Homo sapiens: one gene and its partners. The protein of the gene in region 2 interacts with the protein of the main gene of each other region in a pairwise test. Each region holds a gene or a part of one and is shown on either strand. Other genes may lie near its edges.

What was found.
Region 1: the proteins of WFS1 (region 2) and ZNF488 interact in binary tests that used the Homo sapiens proteins (3 or more experiments, as listed by UniProt).
Region 3: the proteins of WFS1 (region 2) and FAM9A interact in binary tests that used the Homo sapiens proteins (3 or more experiments, as listed by UniProt).

The regions. Positions count from the first base shown.
Region 1 is NC_000010.11:47,370,675-47,374,423, forward strand, and holds part of ZNF488 (zinc finger protein 488), read right to left. Parts: intron 1-3,749. UniProt on the Homo sapiens protein: Transcriptional repressor. Plays a role in oligodendrocyte differentiation, together with OLIG2. Mediates Notch signaling-activated formation of oligodendrocyte precursors.
Region 2 is NC_000004.12:6,272,850-6,276,598, reverse strand, and holds part of WFS1 (wolframin), read right to left. Parts: intron 1-3,749. UniProt on the Homo sapiens protein: Participates in the regulation of cellular Ca(2+) homeostasis, at least partly, by modulating the filling state of the endoplasmic reticulum Ca(2+) store.
Region 3 is NC_000023.11:8,799,788-8,803,536, reverse strand, and holds the start of FAM9A (protein FAM9A), read left to right. Parts: upstream 1-2,153; 5' UTR 2,154-2,226; exon of another isoform or gene 2,227-2,297; intron 2,298-3,327; 5' UTR 3,328-3,365; coding exon 3,366-3,456; intron 3,457-3,749.

The DNA of each region.
Region 1 (3,749 bases), on a different chromosome or scaffold from region 2:
TGGTGAACAAAGCAGGATGCATACGCAAGACGAAGCACTGTGCAGCCTCGGACAGTGATGCTCGCTATGCTTATGAACGAATGCTGAGGAGGCAAAAGGACAAAAAGATTATAGATTTGGTGTAACCTATTCTATGCACACACACACACAAAATGCATACACCAAAGGAAAAACCCCAGGAGGAAACACAGAAAATGACCACCAGGTCATTTGTTCATTGATTCCCTCTTCCGTTCATTCCGCAAGCATTCACTGAGAGCATGCAGCATGCGGGCCCTGTGCGAGGCGCGGTAGTGACAGTGGTGATGAGGCAGTCCTGAGTTCAGCTGTACAGAACACAGGGACCTGCACATGTGCCAGTGTTGCAAACAGGCAATGGTGGCATCTAAACTGAGCTCTGAGGACCCAGAAGGGACTGCCCAGGGTTCACAAGAAGCTTGCATGGGGCCTGTGGTGTGGAAAACCTGAGGGCTCTCTGGGGAACTGAGCCTAACATAGTTCTGCAGTGGGAGAGTGCCCGGGGAGGGGCAGGATCCAGAAGCCAAAATAAAATGGACCTGACTGTTTTTAGAAATAAATGATTCATTTTTTAAGTGTGGCTATAAAGACTACGCAATAGTATGGGAAAAAAAAGCTTATAATACAATGTTAGTGTCAGATATAAACATGTTGTAAAACAAAACAGGAAAAAAGCCTATCTACCAAATAAACAAAAACATGAAAGAAAACATACCAAAGCAATAGATATGTGAAAAATAATTTTTACTATGTACATACACCATATAACATATAGTATACATAGTATGTATACATAATATACCATATAATACACTATATATGTAATGTGCTATATACTATGATGATGCTAGTATCATGGAATTTGGGGGAGTTTTTTCTCAACTTTCCAATATTTTCAAACTACTCTAGTCTTATTTTAGCATTTTGTTTTGTTCTGCAGTCAACTGTTTTAAAGGCGGCAGTGCCCTTTTCTGCTTGGTCGGGGTCAGAATTCTGTAAGGGATTCTCACGGCCCAGTGGAGCTGAAGCCTCTGTGACTTCAGAGATGCTACTTTCCTAACTGCTCCAGGAAATCATTCTGAGGTGAATTCCTCCCACTGTCTACTCTCCTTTGGAAAAGAGGAGTCCTAGCCCCCACGCTGGAGTGCTCTGGCTGGAGTTTCCTGGGAGCGGAGGGGCCTTCCCAGTGGGTGGACTATTTCTCATGGGGGCTTCACAGTCTGTTTCACACTGCCTAGAGAGACCCCTCCTCTGCCAAGCCTGGAACTGAGCATTCCCTGGGCCACAGGAACAAAAGGAGAGCTTTGGAAGAAGGGTGAAATGCCTGGGCACTCAGATCAGATCAGATCAGCTTTTAGGCAAAGTGCATTTCATTTTCTGTTCATTCATTCACTCAGTAAACATGCAAAAAGCACCTACTATGTGCCAGGCTCCAGTCTACATAAGACTGGTGACTCTCAACACTGACTGAATTCTAAGTAGTTGGAAATGACTGGAGAGTAGGGTGAGTGTGCAGTGTGGCCTGGAGAATGCATGTGGAGTTCAGAGTAGGAAGGTCCCCTGTGGAGGCCCAGAGAAAACTTCAGGGCTAGATGCAGTCCTGAAACAGCAGCCCTGGCCCTGCCCATGCTTGAATGCAGGAAGAGAACCTGAAATGTGGGGACAAAGAGCAACTGGCCAAGAACAGAGCCGGTGATGCTCAGGGGAGGGACACCCTCCTGTCAGCCCTCCCCACCCACCCCTTCTATGCACCAGCCTGTATCCAGTAACATGTCGCAAGGTCTTTGCTGGAAGCTCAAGCCTCCTCTGCTTTCTAAGCATGGAGAAGACAGAGACCAGTGTGAAGTATAGGTCAAGAAAAAAAATAAAGAGAAGGAGAAAACAGAGAAAATGCATAAAGATTCCCAGCTTTAAACCTTCTTCCACCTCCATCGTTGCCCCAAATTCCTCCAGGGCTCTCTGTCATGAAAATTTCAGAAAGTGCATGAGAAAACTTTGCAAATGAAGTCAGGGGTCACAGGCAGGGGAAAGTACTGGTCTCAGACTAGGCCAGATAAAGAAAAATATCAAAGACATCAGGAGAGCACCGACCTCGCCCATGGGATGCCTGCCGCAGTGAGATGCCACGCACCTGGCCTAAGTGAGAGGTGGACACACTCCCCTGGCAGCCACCATCTGGGGGTTCAACCTCATGTGTGTCCAGAGCTCTTGATGGGTGATGGAGGGATGGGCAGAGGCTGCTTCATCCCCACTGGAATCAGGCACCTCCTGCCGGGTGTTGACACAGATGTGAGGAAGGAAGGAAGCCACACCTATGGCAGACTGAGCTCTGTGGCTTACTCTGCCTTGGCGTGTCATGGGGCCACTGACCCCCATCACACTAGATTTTTCCAACCCCAGCAAACACACAGAACTCAGCCACCCTCACAGAGTCTCAAAAATAAAGGCTCTAGTGCTTGGCAAGTAAGAAATTAGGTCCATGCATGTGGCAAAAGTTAGACACAGTGAGCTTTGCTGGTTTTTCCCTCTGTTTTCCTTCCTCGGCAACATTCTTAAAAGAAAAATCAAAATAGTAATTACAACAAAAATGTCCTTGTTATCCTTCAGAGAGCACGGCACTGTATTTTCTTCACTCTAATGACTATTGCATCTATTTCCAAGCTTCAGACTATTAATAATACACAGGAATACCAAGAAGCAAATTAAAACAGAAAGGCACAAAAAGTAGAATGGGAAAGACGTGGGTTTGAATCTCACCTCCACGCATTTATTATGGAGCTTCAGTTGTGTAATGCAACTTCTCTGAATACTGGGCAATCGTGAAATGAGTGGGAACATAATGCATTTAAATAGGATAATAATATCTAGAAGGAGGCTCCCACCTCACCCGGCCCATGTCAGTGCCTCAGGAACGTTCATTTATTTCTTTGTGATCAAGGGACAGGAACAAAATGTACGGCATGGAGAAGTAAACAAAAGAATCAATGACTGTACACAGCCATGCTGCTGGGACATGGGACACCTTCTCCAAGCCCAAGATGGAGAGAGGCAAAGTCTTCCATAGACGGAACATCACTCTCCTAACTAAAATAGTTGCATTCTCAAAGATACAAAATGTGCCACTTTCTTAACTGAATAAACGCAGGCAGCATGGCGAGGAAGGACGGCCCAGCAGGCCTTGCCCAGTGTACCCTGAGAGAACACCAAACATTCTGCTCTTAGGTGCTCCATCCACCTACACTGTTTTATTCCCATGCCTTCACCAGATGTTGAAATGTGCTGCCAAATCAAACCTAGACGTAAGACAAACCAAAATAACAAGGAAAGCTTGCTGGTTAAGACTGAGAAACAGCGTGGGGTGGGCAAAAGCTAAGATGCTCGGGTATGAGTCTCAACTTCAGTGTTTCTAGATGGCCTTGGGCAGGTCCTTGTCCTTCAAAGATCTTGCTCAGCTGCAAAATGAGGAGGCTGCACCAGGTGTCCTCTATGGTCCTAAATACTATAAGGCGCCGAGTGACATCTTTATGTGGCATTATGATGCATCTTTTGTGATCAATCTGGTTTTTTAGACATTATTTTGACAAGCTAAAGGGCAAAAAATGCAGATCTAATAATCAGCTGTGACACAGCATGATACTTCTGTCAGCCATAGCCATACCCAGACTAAGTTGCTCTTCTAATGTTCATGAATATTCAAATACAAACAGGACTGTGGACTCCTTCTAAAAGAG
Region 2 (3,749 bases):
GAGCCAAATGGGTGGAGCTGGGATTCATACCCAGATCTGCCGCTCCACAGCCCCCACCCCAGGCCCAAGCCACAGCACCGAAGTCAGAGGACTGATGCCCCAGAAACCAACACAGAGAGTAAAAAGCAAACTAAGGCAAACAGTGCGGTGGGGGCATCAGAAGAGACTAGAGTGAGCAGAGATCCCGTGACCCGTGTCACGCCGGAGCAAGGGCTTTATTTTATTCAACAGAGGCCCTCACATGCTGCTTAGCAACATGGAAAAACACCACCATCCCTGTAATGAAGGACAACCACCGGCCACAGACACAGAGCTGAAAGCGCTGCAGGATCCCGAGCCCCGGACCCGGATGGGCCCTGGATGAGCGGCGTTAGGGGTGGGATGCAAACCCCTGGCACTGCTGGACCTTGAACCTGCTGCTGTGTGAGGCTGTGGAAACTTTTCCTCAGATTCCCAAATGACCCTCCCAAGCTCAGGGCCACAGCCATCCTCTGAGGCACAGAGCAGGGAGAGGCTGGTAACAGAGAGTCTCGCTCCCAGCCCCAAGCTGCCGCAGCGCTGTACTCCTGGCTCTGTGCCCACCAGCTGTGTGGTCCTGAGCAGCCCACATCCCGCTCTGCACCTCAGCCTCCTCATCTGAAAATGGGGACGGGGCAACTGTGAGGACCAGTGAGACCAGACACCATGGGCAGCACGAGGGAGTCCCCTGGCCACCTCTGAACACCCAGCGCTTGGCACTGAGCAGCCAGGTCTGAGTAGGTGCCCAGAGGTCACTTTTGGGGGCAGCTGTGACTGGAAGAGTCAGGAGTGGCCCCAGGCTCCACACACAACAATTTCTGCTCCATTCCCGCTGCAAATGAGTCCTAAAGATCAGACTGGTGTCGCTCAAGAACTCTGCAGATTTCAATCCACACGTTCCTCCCTCAGAGGGACTGAGCCCTTAGTGTAAAACATCCCCCAGGTGCAAACCATGCATGGTCAAGCACACCCCCCCCCCCCACCCCACCCCCGTGCATCCCCCAGGTGCAAACCATGCATGGTCAAGCACCCCCGGGTGCATCCCCCAGGTGCAAACCATGCATGGTCAAGCTTGGGAGCCTGCTCCATCCTGTTTCCAAGTTCCCAGCTCCCGGGAACTGGCACCTTCCACAAAAGCAGCCATTTAACTGCACGTGCAGACCTAAGTGTCCCCTTAGTCAGCTGTGGCAGAGAAATACAGGATCGCACGTAGAACCCACACGCTGTGGGCAAACAGAACCACGGTCCTGCAGGCCACCGGACCACCTGAGATGGTGAAAAGTCAGGTCTTCAAATGACACGTGGCCTTGTCTACCTTCTCTCCCATGGTTCCCACTGCCCCGAAGTCAGGTGTCACTTTCTCAGACAGAGAGAGAGGGCACCTTTACTGAGGGCTGACCTACGCCAGGGCATCTCTGCCATCAAGACCAACGGCTCTGTTCTCTGTACTTGTCTTTTCTCATGAGTTTCTCGTATGGCCCTGGAAGGTAGGTCCTATTGTCGTGAGTTCCTCGCATGGACCTGGAAGGTAGATCCTATTGTCATCCCAGAGTTATAGATGGGGAAATGTTTTATCCTTCAACCTCACCCCACTTCACAGACAGGAACCCAGGTGCAGGGAGGGGAGGGACCTGCTCAAGGTCAAACAGCTCCAGGTACCAGACCTGAAATTCAAATCCAGACCTGCCCAATTCTAATGCTTCTGCAAGCTCATTTCTGAAAAAGACGACTTTGAAATCAGACCGCCATGCCACTGCACCCTCTCTCCCGGGGCCCATTCACTGCAAAACACTGGCTACCCTTCAACATCAGCATACAAATGCTGACCTCCACACTTCTGTTTCTGCAGGGCCCTCTTCCCGGAATGCCTTCTTACCCCCCTCCCCCAGCCTAGACCCTAAGCACCCTTCAAGTCAAGAGCTCCAGCGATACCTCCTTTGTGGGAGCTTCCAAGCTATGTCTGTCCCGAGTCCCTGTCTTCCTCACCTACTCAGGTAAACACACAGCACTCAGGCGATCACCTCTCCATCAGAGCCCTCCCTCTGCTAGAGGTTACAGCTGGAAGCAACATGGTGTGGGGCGTCGGTTACCCTTACTAGTGGCCACATGACCTCACTGTGTCTGTTTCCCCATATGTAAAATGGGGATAGCACCTCCCACATAGGGGTGCTATGGGGATTACGTGTGTGGCAGAAGAGAAAGCAAACTATTGGGCATTAAAAAAAAACTAAGCCGGCCAGGCGCGGTGGCTCACGCCTGTAATCCCAGCACTTTGGGAGGCCGAGGCGGGCAGATCACAAGGTCAGGAGATCAAGACCATCCTGGCTAACACAGTGAAACCCCGTCTCTATTAAAAATACAAAAAAATTAGCCAGGCGTGGTGGCGGGCGCCGATAGTCCCAACTACTGGGGAGGCTGAGGCAGGAGAATGGTGTGAACCCAGGAGATGGAGCTTGCAGTGAGCCGAGATCGCGCCACTGCACTCCAGCCTGGGTGACAAAGCGAGACTCCGTCTCAAAAAAAAGAAAAAAGAAAAAGGAAAAGAAAAACCCTAAGCCATTACTCCCAGGTGCTAAACAAAGGCATGTTCAGTTGGAAAACACTTCATAAAAGGAATTTCAGGAAAACAGATTCTAGCTGGCCTATGTACCATGTATGTCACACTGCAGTTAAAAAAAAACTGTTTAAAGTAAAATCTCTGGTTAGTAAGAATGGATGAATACAGGAGGATTAATTTTCAGGTTCCCTGGGGGTTGGCCAAGTCTGGTTTGGATCAAAGGGCTTGTTATTTCAAAACAAGCACAACAATTCCTGGTCATGGTTGGTCACAGGGACAATGAAGATCAGAAAAGATCTCCCGGTGGAAGGACCTGCTGTCTGGTCCTTCCCTCTCTGAGTCTTCCTGCATGTTACAGCCACTGTGAGCCCTGAGGGCAGGGCTGCAGCTTATCCACTCGGAAGACCGGCTGCCTTGCCAGGAATACGTTAAGCACTTAATGCATGTGGGCAGAAGCCTGAGGCAGCCTGGCCTAGGGCAGGAGCACCATCCAGGCAATAATGCTGTGGGACCTTAGCAAGTCCCTCCCCCAGACCCCAGCATCCAGGCATCTCCAGCTGCATCCACTCTGCACCCTCAGATCCCCACCTGCACGGTGGGGCACTCAGCCCCAACTCCCTACTGGTGACCACAGCAATGGCTTAGAAGCCGTCACTGTGTAAGATCCACAAAACCAAAGTTGCTAGCATTCTTTCCTCATGAGCAATGAGGCATATTTTTATCCCGTCCAAACACAAACACCGGCACCAAGGAGTTCAGCTGAGAGGCCGCCACCTGGAGAGGGCTGCAGGCACCATGCATCCACTCAGACCCGCAGCAGAATGACCACACGTGGCCTTCTGCCCTAAGGGCTCTGGCCCTCACCCAGGCCACCCCCATTCTGTTCTCTCTGGGGGGGCAACCCCATCTCCCAAGCCAGTGCCTCAGAAACAGCCCCTGTGGGAAGCCAAGATGATGTTCACTCTCTCTGATCAGTGCCTCTGCCTCCAGGATGCCAGTCCAGGGGAGTCACTGGAGATGCCCTCGGGGCTCACACACAATGTCCATCATATGGCACTTTCAGCACTGTCCAGAAAGGGGCTGGCTATAAAGCCTACACCCCTCCATATGGTGCAACGCTGTACAGCTGGTAAACGTGACCTCGTACATGAACGTTTTGAGACAAGGAAAAGGT
Region 3 (3,749 bases), on a different chromosome or scaffold from region 2:
GTTTGTTTACCTGGAGCTTTGAGTCATGCTAGACAGTTAATGCTGATGATTTATAGTGGGGGCTTTGGGCCACCTGTATCAGTCTTGACCTCTGGAGGGGCTGGTGACTAATTTCGGTCATGCAGACAGTCGGCCATGCCTACATGCTCCCAAAACCACACTGGATGTCAGGCTTGGGGGAGCTCCCTGGGCAGCAATGTTCTGTGCAGGTTTCCTCACATCACTGCTGGGAGAATTAAACATCATTTGGTTCCATTTCCCAGCTGCTGAAAAACTGTAATGTTGGGAAGAAATTAATAATTCAGCTTAAATCCAAAGGAAGAATGTTGATTGTGTAGATTTTGTAGAATTTTTTTTAAAATGTTGAGGGAAGAAGGGAAGACCAACTATGTAGAAAAGGGAGCCTTTATTATGAACACACAACTCTTTAAAACAAGTGAAGTAATACCCATGTAGAATAAAAGCAAAGAAAAAAGAAACAATTCAGATAATCATCACATAAGAACACTTATATGTTTTATTTTATCTTATTTTATTTATTTTATTTTATTTTGAGACAGAGTCTCCTTGTGTCACCCAGGCTGGAGGGCCATGGTGCGATCTTGGCTCACTGCAACCTCCGCCTCCTGGGTTCAAACGATTCTCGCGCCTCAGCCACCCAAGTATCTGGGATTACAGGCGTGGTGCCACCCAGTTTTTTTTGTAATTTTGGTAGAGACGGGGTTTCACCATGTTGGCCAGGGTGGTCTCGAACTCCTGGCCTCCAGTGATCTGCCCGTCTCAGCCTCCCAAGGTGCTGAGATTACAGGCATGAGCCACTGCACCCAGCCACTTACATGAAACATCTGACTGCATTGCTGAATTCAAAATATCTGAATATGTTATACAGAAAAATGTTTTGGAAATCTAATGAAAATTAATAACGAAATACAATGTTCTACTTACAGTCATTGTTGACTTATCTTAATAATTTGTTTGTTTTGTAATGTGACAAAATAGATCTATATTGTTCATCTTGTCAAAAATATTTATGTGCAGAACTGTATTTTAAAACAAGCAAGTACAAAAGGAAATAAATTAAAGTACACGAATATTTTATTACCTCTCAAAATAGCCTGACTTGAAAAGACCATCACTCCATGGCCAATGGATCTACTTGATCCTGAAATAACCGAGAGTGGGGTGTATCTGTTACTATCAGCAGGTCAACCTTACAGCAACAAGAAGAAAGGCCTTTGACAACCTGATGGTCACTCCTGGGATTTCTATGGCTAACTTAAGTGGCAAGAACTAGCAGGAAACTAGTTGACTTTTTTTGAAGAAAGAAATGACAAAAGTTTCTCAATCAGTACCTTTTAGTCATCATTTCTTGGAAACAACTATACATCATACAGTTGATGCCTTTAAAGACACGACTTTGGGTATGGGCTCAGTGGCTCATGCCTGTAATCCCAGCACTTTGGGAGGCTGAGGCAGGTGGATCACTTTGATGTCAGGACTTCGAGACCAGCCTGGCCAACATGACGAAACCCCGTCTCTACTAAAAATACAAAAATTAGCCGAGAATGGTGGCACGCACCTGTAATCCCAGCTCCTTGGGAGGCTGAGGTGGGAGAATCGCTTGAACCCGAGAGGTGGAGGTTGCAGTGAGCCAAGATCTTGCCACTGCACTCCAGCCTGGGCGACAGAGAGAGACTCCGTCTCCAAAACAAACAAACAAGCAAGCAAAAAACATAAAAGCACAATCCATTGATAAAAAGGGTGCAGCTGGACATGGTGGAAACACACAGGGCATGGGAGGGAGCCTGGGCTCCACCTGCAAGGCGAAGGCCATTCTAGCCAAAGGGGCAGGGGTGGCTGGAAGGAGCTCGGGGGCGAGGTCCTAGGCCCCGTCCACTTGGCTTCCATCCCGAGTCCTTGCATCCCTCCCCAGGAGGAGGCGCTGAAAACTTCTGGGGACAGAGGCCCCAAAGAACCACCACCCACCCCAGTCCACAGCAAATATGGGTGGTCCCTTACGGAAAGAGGGAAGGCGTGTCAGCAGGGGTCGTGGCCCCCAAGGTCCTTCACCCGCATGCGCATGCGCACTTAGCTGACCAATCAGAGAGGAGCGTGGATAGCCAGGGCAGCTGCTCTCGCGAGAACTGAGGACCCATTTTTCTAAGAGAGCGTCGTGGTGCCAGTGCCTGCAGGTTCTGTGAGGAAGCGGCATCAGGGGTCCCTCAGGTGAAGCGCTCGCGGTGGGGAGGCAGGAAGTCGAGCATGCGGCCCTCTCGCAACCAGGGTGTGAAGCGCAGGTGAAGCGCTCGCGGTAGGGAGGCAGGAAGTCGAGCATGCTGCCCTCTCGCAACCAGGGTGTGAAGCGCTGAGCGGCCGGCTGACCTGCACACGGGCAGCCCGAGACCCCTGGCCCCTTCTTGGCTTTGGAGTCCACCATGCACGTGCTAAGAGGCCCCAGGTTTTCAAAGCAGGAAATGGCCCTGGCATCGTTGCCTGGGGCCTGGGTCAGGGCGAGGCCCTGAGGGTGGGCTGGGATGGGCCAGGGCAGGGAGGGAGCTGGAGACACCTGAGTGATCCCCAGGGCCCAGGAGTGTCCCCGGGACTTGTGCATGTGTGCAGTGGGTAGGGGTGGGGCAGGGGAGGGGGGCTTGGGGGAATGGAGGGGGTGGAGAGGGGAGCAAGGGAGGGGTGGTGGCAGAGGGTGGAGGGTCGGGGAAGTGGCAGACAGGCAGGGGCCGGGTGTGGGGCCAGGGATGGGGGCAGGGGAGGGGAGGGGTGTGGGGTTCGTGGGGTGAGGGGATGGGGGAAGGGGAGGAGGAGGGGCGGAGTGTGTGGGGAGGCGACAAGCAGGGGTGTTGTGGGGGACAGTTCGAGTGGGTCCCTCCAGCCCGGCCGCCCGTCAGGACAGGACACTTGGGGTCACGAGGGGTCACCTGGGCATCCAGGCAGGCAAGTGGCAGTGCAGCCCCTGACATTCCCCCAGAGATGGCTGGGGAGGTCCTGTGACACCCGTGGTCCTCCGGGCCACGCAGGTCTCTGGGGCACACAGGGGCAGGGCTGAACTCTGTCCCAGGGACACCGCAAGGATCCTGCAGGGGCCATTCAGGTGTGCGAGGCAGCTGTGAGTTCTGCAGCCAGCCCCAGGGACGGGCTGGACGGGCCACGAAGGATAGGAGGGGACACTGGCATCTTCTCCGACCCCTCCTGCTCCCACAGGATACACGGGGTGGGCCAGCCCCACCCTTTCTTGAATCCGAGATCCCGTTGGCTCTCCTTTCACATATCCTGTTTCCTTAGCTTACTTAGTTTGACTTTGCACTCAACCAGGTTCAGGGATCGCCTCTAACTTCCCAGGACAGCCAACCATGGAGCCCGTGGGCAGGAAGCGCAGCAGGAAGGCTGCCAAAGCTCAGTTGGAAGCTCAAGTTACGGCCGCCCAGGGGGCCACGAAAGAAGGTGCACGCCCAAGGAGATGGTCTGTTTGCTCTCTGCGCGGGGGGCACATGGGCAGCCCGAGACCCCTGGCCCCTTTGTGGCTTTGGAGTCCACCATGCACGTGCTAAGAGGCCCCAGGTTTTCAAAGCAGGAAATGGCCCTGGCATCGTTGCCTGGGGCCTGGGTCAGGGCGAGGCCCTGAGGGTGGGCTGGGATGGGCCAGGGCAGGGAGGGAGCTGGAGACACCTGAGTGATCCCCAGGGCCCGGGATTGTCCCGGGGACTTGTGGATGTGTGCAGTGGGGAGGGGTGGGG